Homo sapiens: one gene and its partners. The protein of the gene in region 2 purifies or fractionates together with the protein of the main gene of each other region. This does not show direct contact. Each region holds a gene or a part of one and is shown on either strand. Other genes may lie near its edges.

The links. Proteins that work in one complex are often made in the same cells at the same time.
Region 1: the proteins of DNAJB7 (region 2) and ASPM purify together in Homo sapiens (affinity purification with mass spectrometry; one large-scale study listed by BioGRID and IntAct). This does not show direct contact.
Region 3: the proteins of DNAJB7 (region 2) and CMAS purify together in Homo sapiens (affinity purification with mass spectrometry, with the first as the bait; one large-scale study listed by BioGRID). This does not show direct contact.

Annotation. Positions count from the first base shown.
Region 1 is NC_000001.11:197,083,175-197,087,763, forward strand, and holds the end of ASPM (abnormal spindle-like microcephaly-associated protein), read right to left. Parts: intron 3,799-4,589; coding exon 3,629-3,798; intron 1,253-3,628; coding exon 1,150-1,252; 3' UTR 953-1,149; downstream 1-952. UniProt on the Homo sapiens protein: Involved in mitotic spindle regulation and coordination of mitotic processes.
Region 2 is NC_000022.11:40,859,163-40,863,889, forward strand, and holds DNAJB7 (dnaJ homolog subfamily B member 7), read right to left. Parts: upstream 2,952-4,727; 5' UTR 2,833-2,951; coding exon 1,903-2,832; 3' UTR 1,620-1,902; coding exon of another isoform or gene 1,516-1,619; 3' UTR 387-1,515; downstream 1-386. UniProt on the Homo sapiens protein: Probably acts as a co-chaperone.
Region 3 is NC_000012.12:22,059,624-22,063,669, forward strand, and holds part of CMAS (N-acylneuraminate cytidylyltransferase), read left to right. Parts: intron 1-1,208; coding exon 1,209-1,303; intron 1,304-1,657; coding exon 1,658-1,829; intron 1,830-2,657; coding exon 2,658-2,811; intron 2,812-4,046. UniProt on the Homo sapiens protein: Catalyzes the activation of N-acetylneuraminic acid (NeuNAc) to cytidine 5'-monophosphate N-acetylneuraminic acid (CMP-NeuNAc), a substrate required for the addition of sialic acid.

The sequences.
Region 1 (4,589 bases), on a different chromosome or scaffold from region 2:
TGTATACATATATACTATTAGTTCTTTCCCTCTGGAGAGCCCTGACTAATACAGATTTTGGTACCAGTAGTTGTTCTAGAGGAACAGAGTTTTAAGGATGGATTTCTTTAGCTGGTTTTGGGGTTTCTGGAGTTGGCTGTTTAATCTGATTAGATCCAAAAATGCTAAGGACTCTATTTCTAATAGTATGGAGAACACTGATAGTTTTTTATGTGAATTGTTTAGAGAGTTATGCAAAATAAATGCATTTGATACTCCTTATTAACTGCTCCTGAGAAGCAAGGAGTTTAGTGTCTCTATAAATAATACCTTTGACCATATGTGGAGAACCAAGGAATATAATGAAGTTAGTTGATACTCCTAAGTTCACTGAACAAAGTGATGAAAGAAAAGGATGAGCCCAGGGATTCTAACTCCCATGGGCAGACTTTGAGACTCTATTCAGATTTCAGCCATAAGAATTAGACATCTGTGGCCCTGAAACCACAGATACTAGTAATAGTGACTCAAAGAGTAGAAAAAAAATCACATTTCAATACTGAATCATTTTCAGGTCTGTGGTGTATAACTACACAACAAGATTCTATTATAAGCAATAGCATGTTCCTTCCACTTCAAATTATAACCCCCATCAGTTCAATGGTAAGAATTTTTAGTAAATACAGTGGTGGGTGTATTCTTTTTGTGAGCCTAGAAGGGCTCACTTGCTTATCTGGATGCTTTAGCCAGTCAAGGATATAGATAAGGATGCCATTGATATGAATTTGTGAGATTATTTTATCCTAGTCTCACTTCTTAGTGAGTAGACAGAACTTCAATTTCTAACATTTGTTTTATGAAAATTCCTCAACTTACCTATAAAAAAGGTGTAATCAGCTATTATTTCCTTTTAGTAATAAGATTACATTGAAACTACTATAATACTTTAAGATAATAGACAGGAATAATATAATCATCTTATGACATATTAGTTTATTACATGCATAAAACTATAAATGATAAAAATGAAGAATGTAATGAACAGTTTATGTTTTTTTAAAACAAAGTCAGATTTTAAAAGTTGTACACGGAGAGCAAAAATCACTTTACGTACTCATGATTGGCTTTAATATTTCTTTACACTATACATACTGAAAATGTTTACATTTACTAATAAGGAATGCCAAGCGTATCCATCACCATTTGAATAGCTTGCAGGGGATTTGTGATTTCTTCCATGTTATCTCTTCTCAAAACCCAATCTGGCTTAAGTCTGTTAAAAAAAAAAAAAAAGTCTGGCATTAATAAAGTTCTTCTCTTTAGAGTTACCTTCACCTTTTTTCTCTTAACTAAATTGTAGCTACTCCTGAACACATCATTTCCCTTACAAACTGCTCAAAGAGGTGGGAGAACTTCATATTATTGCCCATCACTAGTTCCAGACTATTTCTCTCCATCCTTTCTAAAAAATAATGCTGGCTTCTTTGAAGCTTATGCTATTTAGCTTGACCACTGCCTTTTGGTCATCAGCCAAACTCTCAGTGTCTTATTCCTTGTAAACCTGGTTCTTGTTCTCCTCTTACCTACTGTCACCGTTCTCAGCAACAGCAACATCTATGTGGCCAAAAAGCCAACAACCTAGTCCGTTTTTGCCCCACTTTCCTTCAATTCTACCTCAACCAATCCTTTTTAATATGATCACATACTAGACTTTGTCATCATCAGAAAGTGTGCGACCACTGAAATCTTGAGACTTCCATTCTCCATCCACCATTTCTGATTCATCCATGTCATATGCTCTAACACAGTCATTGAACCAGTTCTTCTACCCCACTGAGATCTCCACTTCATTTGGCCTCAACACATACCCAACATCCACCAGAATGCTGTCCTTACTTTCCTGTGTATCTAGCTCAGGTGCATCAGTATTATCAAAACCTTTGCAAATGCCATTAACTGTTGTCTCTCTCTCCTACCAAACTAGTCTGAAGAATTCTACTTGGATTTCAAATTGAGTCAAAATATCTGCCTTCTCCATTCCTATACAGCTGCATATTACTAAAAATGTTTACACAACCAAGCTGATTTTATTTTTTGCCAATAATTACAAATCTAAAATGAGCATTTGAAATTGCCAGCATGCTCCCTTTCTCTCCAAGATGACTATCTTGGTCCTTTCCTCTTTTCAAACTTCCCCTCCATACCCTCTGAGCTGCTTCTGAGTTGTTGAGTTTATAATCTCAAACTTATTGAGAAAATAGTATCAAACCGAGGGAGTTCATGCATCTTCTCACATAATTCCCTACTATATGCATTTCCATCATCTTATTTTGTCCTGCTAAAAATCCAAAGATATATCAATTGGTGAGTGAACAAAGTGTGGTACGACCATACAATGGAATAGTACTAAGTGATAGAAAGGAATGAAATTCAAATCCATGCATAAACATGAACGAATTTCAAAAGCATTATGCTAAGGAAAAGAATCCAGTCACAAAAAGCTATCTACTATATGATTCCATATATGTGACAGTATAGAAATGGCAAAACTAAAGGTACAAAAATCAGATCAGTAGTTCCCAAAATCCAGGGAATAAAGAAAGAGAACTGACAACAAAGGGGCATAAGGAAACTTTGTGTTACAGAAATATTTTGTATCTCAGTGGTGGTAGTTTCCTAACTGTATACATTTGTCAAAACGAATTGAATTGCATACATTTAAAGGATGCATTTATACTGTCAGTAAATTTTACCTCAAAAGCCTGACCTACATCAAAATTTTAAGAGAATCCATTCATATGTTAGTATGAGCTTTTAAAACATAATGAATATTAAATTCTACCAAGTCCTTAAAAAACATGTAGAAATGGTCCCATTAATATATTTCAAGCAAATGAACTTTACATTATGCTGTGAAATATGCATGCATAAAACCAATTTATAACTACATTATACAGTTTATAATTATGAGTATAATTATAAAGCTAATGGCTGTGTAACCACTCAGGTCAAGAAATAGTGTGTTGTCAATAATGTAGGATTTGTACCTAGTATAGAGAATTGCTAAGTCTCAAGAAGGAAAGAAGGAAGGAAGGGAGGGAGAGAGGGAGAAGGGGGAAGAAAAAAAGGAGGAGGGAGAAAGAAGGAAGGGAGTAAAAACACTAATTAAATGCCATGACGGTTCACCAAAATAAATTAAATCTTTTTGCCAATAAAATCAGAAAATGTCAATCTAAATTTCCAGAAGGAGAAATTTCAAGAATCAGGGTGATTATGGGAGGACTGGAGGTTGATATTTTGGCTAAGAAGGACTTTTGGCACTTCTTAAACAGTGTAGTTTGTCTTTCATGCAAAATAAAATAAATAAAATAAAATGACAAAACTTATAACAAGCTTCTTAGCCTTAGCTCTTAACTATTTAATATAAGAAGTTTGTTGAATAACTATTAAATGTCCAAAGCTACAGTATAATGTTATTTCTTTATTTACCAAGACTGCTTCTTTTAAATTTACCAAACATTCCATTCTTATTCATATGTTGTTTCTCCACTGAAAAGCACATCTTGTTTATGGTAAGTGCTCAATAAATATTTGTTAAATGAATGAATGAACAGTGACACAAATTTATGGACTATATTTAATTGCTTACCTTGAAACTATTCTGGTCCTTACAGGTGTTTCTGGGATAAAAGGAATGCTTATAGAAGAATTCTTCTTTTGCTTGTAAAGTATTCTTTCAGTATTCATTTTATGTTTATGAGCTGTAAGTTTGTAGAGACTGTAAATACGGTCAACAACTTTGGACCTACTTCGTACATCCTACAAAATAAAATGCACAGTTACTAAAAAGTAATAAGAATTAAAATTTTATCTCTTTTAGACTAGCAAAATCAAATATAATAAAAACTATGCAGTAAACCTTTTTTTTTTCTTTTTTGAGATGGTCTCTCTTGCTCTGTCGCCCAGGCTGAAGTGCAGTGGTGCGATCTTAGCTCAATGCAATCTCTGCCTCCCGGGTTCACGCCATTCTCCTGCCTCAGTCTCCCAAGTAGCTGGGATTACAGGCACCCGCCACCACACCCGGCTAATTTTTTTTGTATTTTTAGTAGAGATGGAGTTTCACCGTGTGAGCCAGGATGGTCTCAATCTCCTGACCTCGTGATCTGCCTACCTCAGCCTCCCAAAGTGCTGGGATTACAGGCGTGAGCCACCGTGCCCAGCCTGCAGTAAACTTTTAAGCTTTGAATAATCAAAGAAACCTCACCAAGTTTGGCAGGTAGATTGATTTAAATTACGAGCTAATTTGCAAGGCAATTATAAGGAAGATAAATATTCAAAAGTTGCATACTTAACTCCACACTGAATATAAGAAGGAATTATTATAGTCAACATAGCAATTATAGTCAACACACCTATCATATCCAGTTACCAAGTCTTGAAAAGTTTACCTCTGCAGTTTCCAAAGTCTTCTACTTACCTCTCAGCGACACAATCCTAAGACAAGCACAATCTCTTGCCTAGATCACTACATATCAACACTTGCCACCTTCTTTGATGGTCTCACTATATCCACACATGCTCTCCCAAATTCATTCTTCAATCAGAAGCCA
Region 2 (4,727 bases):
CCCTGGAACAGATTTTGGGAGAAGTTGGGCTAGAGCATAAGATGAGTACAAGGAGCTGATAGGAAATCAAGTTGGGAAAAAAGCTGGTGGCTGGCTCGTGGAGGGCCTTGTATATTATGTTAAGCAAACAATTAGCTTTTTCCTTTAGATGGTGGGAAAACTTTGAGGAATTTTAAGCTATTGAGTAAGATGATTAAATCTAAATTTTTGGTTTTCTGTTAAGAGTGAAGAAATGGACTACAGGGCATGTCATTACATTCTTAAATTTTCTGAGACACTGATTTTTGCTTTAGTTTTTGGAAAATTGCAATTTTTTTTTCAACTTTACTACCACATGCATGATAACAGATAAACTCTACTAAATATCACATCTTATATTAGAAGCATTTAAAATACCCTGGGCTTTTATTATTTTATTTTCTGAAAATAAACTTTGAATACTAATTGTCCGCAGTCTCTTCTATAGAATAAATAACCTTTCCTTCTCCCATCTGCCCACTAAAAATCAAATACCGATACAAAACACAAGCTCTTGACTATAGCTGTCTTTTAAAAATAGCAGATATTATAATTTTTTTCTAATTTCGCATTTGTATTTGGCCAAAGTTGAATAAGTTTTAGTGCTGCTAGATGTAACTCAAACCATTTGCTCGATATCTGATGTATTTGTAACCCATCTATTTTTCTCCCAACATGACTAAATTAAAATGGCTATAGGTGCTATTTTAGAGTAATGTATTTGTAGATTTTGTGTACAAACTCTAAACAAAAATAGAAAATTTCCTGTCTGGAGTGATTCACTGATGGCCTACCATACAGACTGCTCTGAGGAATTCAGGATAAGACTGGCCTTTAAAAAAAATGTGGTAAAATATACTACATAAAATTTACCATGTTACCCGTTTTTTAATTTTTTAAATTTTCTATAGTTTTTCTTTAGAGACAGGGTCACACTCTCAGCTGGAGTGCAATGGCAAGATCATAGCTCCCTACAACCTCAAACTCCTGGGCTCAAGCAATCCTCCCACCTCAGCCTCCTAAGTAGCTAGGCCTACAGGCACGTACCACCACACCCAGCTAAATTTTTAAAAAAGTTTTTTCATAGAGGACAGGTCTCATTATGTTACCCGGACTGTCGTGAAATTCTGACTTCAACCCTCCTGCCTGGGCCTCCCAAGATGCTAGGATTACAGGTGTGAGCCACTGCACCCAGCTAAGTCTATTTCTAACTTAAAATACTTTATACTTTAATTTTTAATTTGTAGTACCTTTAAGTTATAATGCATCAAATGCTGTTCCTCCATTGGAAAACAGCCATTTCATGAATAATTGTGTAGTCTGAACCTGTGTGTCTTGATACATTCTTGTCTTCTAATGCTATGCATGTTTCGTAAGTTTGTATAGTGGTTTTAATTAGAAAAAAGAAAAATAGGCTATAAACTCTACTAAAGAAAAATTCAAAAGTAAAAAACTCATTGCAGTTTTCCAAATTCCTTTTTTTTTTTTTTAAGACAGGGTCTTACTTTGTCACCCAAGCTGGAGTGCAGTGGCGTGATCCCATTACACTGCAACCTATGTCTTCCAGGCTCAAGCAGTCTTTCTACCAGCTTCCCGAGTAGCTGGGACTACAGGTGCACACCACCACACTTGGCTAATTTTTAAATTTTTTGTAGAGAAAAGATCTCACTATACTGCCCAGGCAAATTCTTATTAGCACCAACTGTCACCACAAACTCATCCTTTTCTGACATACCCATTCAAAAAAACTACTAACCAAATGTCCACAATCCTGCTAAAAGTGTTGAAAAGCTCTTAGTATAGTATTAAGTGTTATCTACAAAATTTGTGATTAACCAAAACACACACAATTGTGTTCAAATGTTATATATTTGAAGAGTCAATTTAACAATTCCTTTTGGTAGACTTCTTTTGCACCTCTTTACGCTTCTTTTTTTTCCTCTTACCACCCTCTTTGACTCCTGCTGAGAAAATAGGGGGATCTCTGTTGCTGGTAACCCAAGATATACCTCCCTCATCATTGTCCACGAAAGTATATTGAGATACATGTTTGGAGCTGTGAGAATTTGGTGAATAGTTGTTGAATGACTGTGTTCTCCAGCTGCATTCTTTTGCAAAGCCCTCTTCATTGGCCACACTATTTACAAGAAAAAATGTCAACTCTCCATTATCTTCAGCTTCTCTTTCTTGATCACTTTCAATAATTTTCTTTGTATTAATATTTCTGCCATTAACGATTTTGTCTGAAGTTGTAACAGATATGTAGTTGTCCATCCCACTATTATCAAAAGCCAGGGAAGAGAAAGAAGTAAGGCCTTCATGCCCCAATGAACCCTGTGATGTATATCCTGTATCATATGAAGAAAATTTCTCAAAAATTGGATATTCACTGGCAGTGGAGAAAAAGTATCCTGCATCTCTGTTTCTGTTTCCATAGGAGCTTCCTGGACGATTTAACAGGTCCTCAAGCGAGTCTTCAAAGAAGTGAAAAGAAAATGGATCCCTTTCATGAAAAATTTCTTTAAAAACATCATCTGGCTTATGGAATGTGAAGCCGTACTCACATTCATCATCAAAATGACTTCCACCTCCGTTTAATCCTTCTGTGCCATATTTATCATAAATGTCCCGTTTCTCATCATTTGATAATACCTCGTATGCCTCAGCTACTTCTTTGAATTTTCTCTCTGCTTCTTCTTTATTTTCTGGATTTTTATCAGGGTGCCATTTAAGTGCCACTTTATGATAAGCTTTTTTAATGTCCTCAGGTGAAGCATATCTTTGCAGTCCTAGAACTTCATAGTAATCCACCATGTTTTAACAGATAGTTGGAAGTGGGTGTGCTGGGTATTGAGAACCGTGGTTTCCTCAGCTCAGGCTCTGCTGGTGGTGGTGATAGAGGTAGTGACTGCAAATAGGTACACTTTTATGTTAAAGACAATGTTATTACCATGTGCTAAGAGATGAGGATACTGATTATGTGGCAAGCAGAGTTACAAATATGTCAGAGAGGGCTGCATTATGGTGTCATTCTGGGGTCAGTGTAGGGACTGGACCTTCCAAATAGAGCTAGTCCAGAGTCGTACCAGACCATCCTGAATCCTCTGGACTGTTTCCCCTGTATGTTTCCCTGGAAGCTTCAGGCAGTGCCTCATAAGCCAATGGAATCTGTTGCTAATAGCCACAGCATATCCCTTGCATAATATGACCTCTAGATTACTGCGCCTTAATTGCTTCCCAGCTCTTCTATGCTTTGGTTTAGAAAAATGAAGTACTGACTTACGGGTGAAGAAAGTATTCAAACAGTTGACATATTTATTTCAGTCAAGAAACAGTTCAGAGGGAGATACAAACAAGTAACTTAGTTACAATATAATAGTTATGATGAGAGGAAGTACTGGATGCTAAACAATTATATGAGAGACAGCTCAGGCTGGGGGTGTCAATGAAAGCCTCTTGGAGGAAGTAGCCTGATATGTTAACTTTCTGCATGCCAGTGGTAAGTCATTTGAGATTATAGTATCTTTGTCCACCCAAGGTTTACTGCTGTAAAACATGTAATTAAAGATTTGGAAAGTTGTGTGTTTATGTATTCACTGTATAATTATTGATTGTCTACTTTGTGCCAGGCACCGTTTTAGCCACTGGTGATAGCAGTATTGAACAAAAGACACCAGTTTTCCTGGTGCTTGCATTATAATAGAATACAAATAGGAGAACAAATAAAATAATTTAAGATAATGCGATATGTGCTCCAAAAAAAATAGCAATGTGCTGGGGGCAGAGCGCTACTTTAGATTGGTTTTAGAAGGCTTCTGAGGAGATGACATTATTGCTGAGACCTATATGACAGTCAGCCACATAGTGATCTAATATGGTAGCCACTGGCCATGTTGATGGACATTTTGGTTGTTGCCAGTTGGGGCTGTTGGACATAAAGCTAGCACTTATTTCAAGTACAGTGGGAAGCCTTTGTGGGGAGTGGGGAATATGCAAGTTTAATGATGTGATTTACATTTGTAATGGATCAGTGGCTACTATTTGGAAATTCAGTCATGTATGGGAAAGTAGAATTCGAGAGCCAAATTAGAAACAGACCAAAGGTGATTTTCTTTGGGGATAAACTACCAGTAGTCTAGACCCGAATTTAAAGGTCTTATATTCTATACCTGGCTCATTTTATTGTCTGAGAAAATTCCCTGTAATCTTTGTTTTTCCTCCTCTATGTTGTGTTTATTTTATTTTCCATCACATTTATAACCCCTCAGTTAAATGATACGCTAATGAAATCTAAAACTGTAGTGTATGCTTCTAGTCTTTCAAGACCATTTGTCAGGTCTGAATATTTTTTTGCTTTGCATTTTTATATATACTCATTTTTTAGAGGTATTGTGAAATGCTTAAAACTCAATTTAAATTCTCTCCAGTGTATGTGCTTACATGTACTTATGTGTGGCTTACCCATGATTATAATTTGCCTACCACTGGAAATAATAACCAATAATGTCGAAAATTATTTGAGTACCCTCTGAGTCACACTGTAGCAAGTGCTCATTTAACTGACACAGCACTCTAGCAAAATAAATATTTTATGCCCATAAGAAAACAGACGTTCTGAGAGAGAAAGTAATTTGTCTAAGGCTACATAGCTTGTTAGTGAAAAATCTGATTTTTAAACTTGAGTCTAATTTCAAGTTCTCATTCCACTC
Region 3 (4,046 bases), on a different chromosome or scaffold from region 2:
AAAGAGAGAAAAACATTTTTACAAATCTTCTGGTCAATGTGTAGGCAAACTATAGACTAGCTGTTTAGTTAAATTTAAGTGTTCAGAAAAATTGGATTTGACACACATAGATACTACCATTTTTAAGCTTTTTTCTAAGGAGGACCATGATTAACCCATTCCTAAAGTGTGGAGAAAAATGTTTCTCATTAAAACAAGGTTTATGAAGAGACTGACAATTCTGAAAAAAAAAATGAAATTGAAATTGTCCAGTAATTGATCTTGTCATTCAAATAATTACTATCAGAAGAAAGACCCTTTCTCTTGCTGACCCTTGCCTAGAATCAAGAGACTGCCCTTGCCTTTGCCTGCATGTGACTTGGATGACTATTAGTCATTTTCATCAGTAGCTCAGAGATCTAAGAAAACTCTGTACAACAGATGCTACAGTTATTTTTCCTCCCCTGTGTTGCCTGTTAGTTGCAAATTAGAACAGAAGTTCCAAAAACCTTAATACTGCTTTTGGATGATGACAGGAGAGACTTCTTGAAAAAAAGGAGGATATGATTAAGGGATTTCCACAAAATCCCTTGTGGTCAGAAACCTGGAGGATGTAATATTTCTGCTTTTTTCAATATTAAAATAGAAATTTTCTTAAATAGGGAACTTGAACTGTTTAGATAGAATTTGAAAAATGTTAAGGTTATTTCTTTTGTGTGAGCTTTCTCCTTAAAAAAAAAAAAAAAAAAAAAAAAAAAGCTGGGCGTGGTGGCTGAAGCATGTCATCCCAGCACTTTGAGAGGCCAGCTTGAGGCCTCAAGAGGATAGCTTGAGGCCAGGTTTCCAAGACCAGCCTTGGCAACATAGCAAGATCTTATATCTACAAAAAACTTTTTAAAAATTTAGCCGGACATGGTGCTGTATACCTGTAGTACCAGATCCTTAGGAGGCTGAGGTGGGAGGATTGCTTGAGCCTAAGATTTCAAGGTTATAATGAGCTATGATTGCACCATTGCACTCCAGCCTGGGAGGCAGAGTGAAACCCTGACTCGAAAAAATAAAAAAGTAAAAATAAATTTAAAAATCATTTTTATGTGACTGATTTTTACTGGGTTATTCATTTTTCTCAGTACTGTAGAAATGAATTCATTGTTCTGTATTATAATAAAGTTTTGATATATGTGAATGAATATTAAAAACAGTATTCATGACATTTATACTACCTTTAGGGTGGAAAAATGGCATACTACGAAATGCGAGCTGAACATAGTGTGGATATAGATGTGGATATTGATTGGCCTATTGCAGAGCAAAGAGTATTAAGGTAAAAACAAATAAACCTTTATAACCTTTGTACTAAATCTTAATAATTATATTTCTAGATACTGATTTCTGATACTTCAGACATCTTAGGATCTTTGTAATTACTTTGTTCATGTGAGGAAGACATGTAAAATATGTGTTTACATGGCTTCAATAAAGTGAGAAACATTATCTGGCTAGACCACACTACTTTTACTTACTGTACTATATGTTAAAATATATATGTGAAGTAAATTTGGAGAGTAATGTTTGAATAATTGAATGGAGGGTGACATTTCATGTATTGGTTTAGCCAGATGAGAGGGAGTGATTAGTACTGCACTTGTACTCAAAGGTCTATTTTGGTTTCTTTTAGATATGGCTATTTTGGCAAAGAGAAGCTTAAGGAAATAAAACTTTTGGTTTGCAATATTGATGGATGTCTCACCAATGGCCACATTTATGTATCAGGAGACCAAAAAGAAATAATATCTTATGATGTAAAAGATGCTATTGGGATAAGTTTATTAAAGAAAAGTGGTATTGAGGTATGTGCTCCCTGAATATAGCAGTATTTTATAATATTTTGATTCAGGGTCAAAGAACATGCAAGGAATTAAGAGATTTAAATTTTTAGTATTAACTCTTAAAATATCTGAAATTTGGCCTTCATACGCCTAGAAAATTATTATACTATTTAGTTTTAGATGAGTAGAATTAGGAATTTGTTAATCAGCAAATAATATTTCTTGTTTATTCAGTAAATATAAACATAACTACTTTTAAATGGGAGCTATCTAATGTTTCCCAAAGGATCTTGCAGCAAGAAAGATTCCCTAGATAATAGGTGTACCATTTTAGAAAAGGACGATATCCTGTGGATTTTTAAAATCTAGCTTATTCTTATGAATGACATTTTTGATTCAAAATAACTTAACGTTTAAGTGTATTTTTTTAAATGAAAGCTAGCTAAGATAATTATAATTTACCAGAAATCCTAAATATGTATTGCTAAGCAGCACAAGAGAGAGGTTATAGACTTTCCTCTGGATAAATTGAATTATAGGAGAATCTTAGAGTAGTATCAGACAATATATGTTGTAATTTTTACCTGTAGATAGAATCCTTTCTATTGTAGAAAATAAAATACTGTGTCTCACCTTTATTGGGCTATGAGAAATAAAATGAGCTTTGTTTTAAAGCATCATGATTTTAATTCGACAGTCAGTTTTCTTACTTGGACCTTCAGAAAGTCAAAAGATGACTCGTTTGTGATTTGGACTGTCTACAAGGTCAATTATTATGAAAGATTTCTGTTTTCTTCACTTTTTAATTTTTCCCTTCTTCCTCCAATCCTTTTTTTTTTTTTTTTTAAGGTGAGGCTAATCTCAGAAAGGGCCTGTTCAAAGCAGACGCTGTCTTCTTTAAAACTGGATTGCAAAATGGAAGTCAGTGTATCAGACAAGCTAGCAGTTGTAGATGAATGGAGAAAAGAAATGGGCCTGTGCTGGAAAGAAGTGGCATATCTTGGTTGGTATCTTTTTATTCACCCATAGTAAAATGGACCAGGAATTAATTATTTACTTATTTTTAAAGAAATGACAAAGCACATCCTCCAAATGGGTATGATTGTAGGGAAATAGGAACTCTTTTAACAAACACTGCTGATCAAACTGTTAAACTGGGACAGTCTTTCTGGAGGTTAGTTTGATAATAGGTATCAAATGTAGAATGATTATTAGCACAAGCTGTGAAGTCAGACTGTACCACTGATTAGCCAGTTGTGATAAGATGAATGTTGTTTCCTCATCTGTAAACTGGAGATATCGAGAGTACCTATTACCGTAGGGCTCTGGAAGGGATTAATAAAATAATATGAGTAAAGCACTTAGCAGAATTTCTAGTACATATGAATTACACTCTGAATAGTTTTTGCTGCTAATTGAATGTACATACTTTTTCCTCCAAATTCCAATTCCAGGAAAGAAATGAGACAAATGGGCCAATAGTGAAGTTAAAAGAACCCACTTAAATGTCCTGTGAAAAATAGAATATCCCTAAAAAGGATTACTATGCAACCATTACAAACAGTGCTGTGACCTGTATTTATTTGCATGATCAAATATAACAATGTTTTTCACTTGGATATTAAGCAATACACTTACTTACCAGGTACCTATGATGATACGCAGCATGGAACTGGTTGTGGGAACTGTAGGCTTTCTGCTTGCAGAGCTTACAGTCTGATGATGTCAACATTTTAAAATTGATAAGTTATTAAGATGCATAATAACTATAAATCATGTATGAAAGCAGTATTTACAAGGGTAATATGAGCCTCAAAATAAGAAGCACAGGAAAAACTTTGGGAGCATGTGATCTAGAGACTTCAGGAATAACCCTTAAACCACACATGAAGATTTAATGGACATAAATGCTGCAGAATGTTTGTTAAAGACAGATCCAATTTTTATTAGAAGAAAATTTTAGTGGAATGTATAACAAATTCCAACTATACTTATTATCTTTCTTTGGGATGTTAAGCAAGCTTCTGTATACCTTAGTTTTCTACTTAGAATATAAACACAAACCAAATTTTATAAAGCCATTAGAAAGAAAAACAAAGATAATATAAAATGCTTAACATAGTGCCTACAGATAGTAATAAGTGTATCATTTATATAGGTAAAACTCTAGAATTATATGTGTCAAAATGTAGTGATTATCTACAAATAGTGATAATTAGGATGATTGTGACTTTTTTG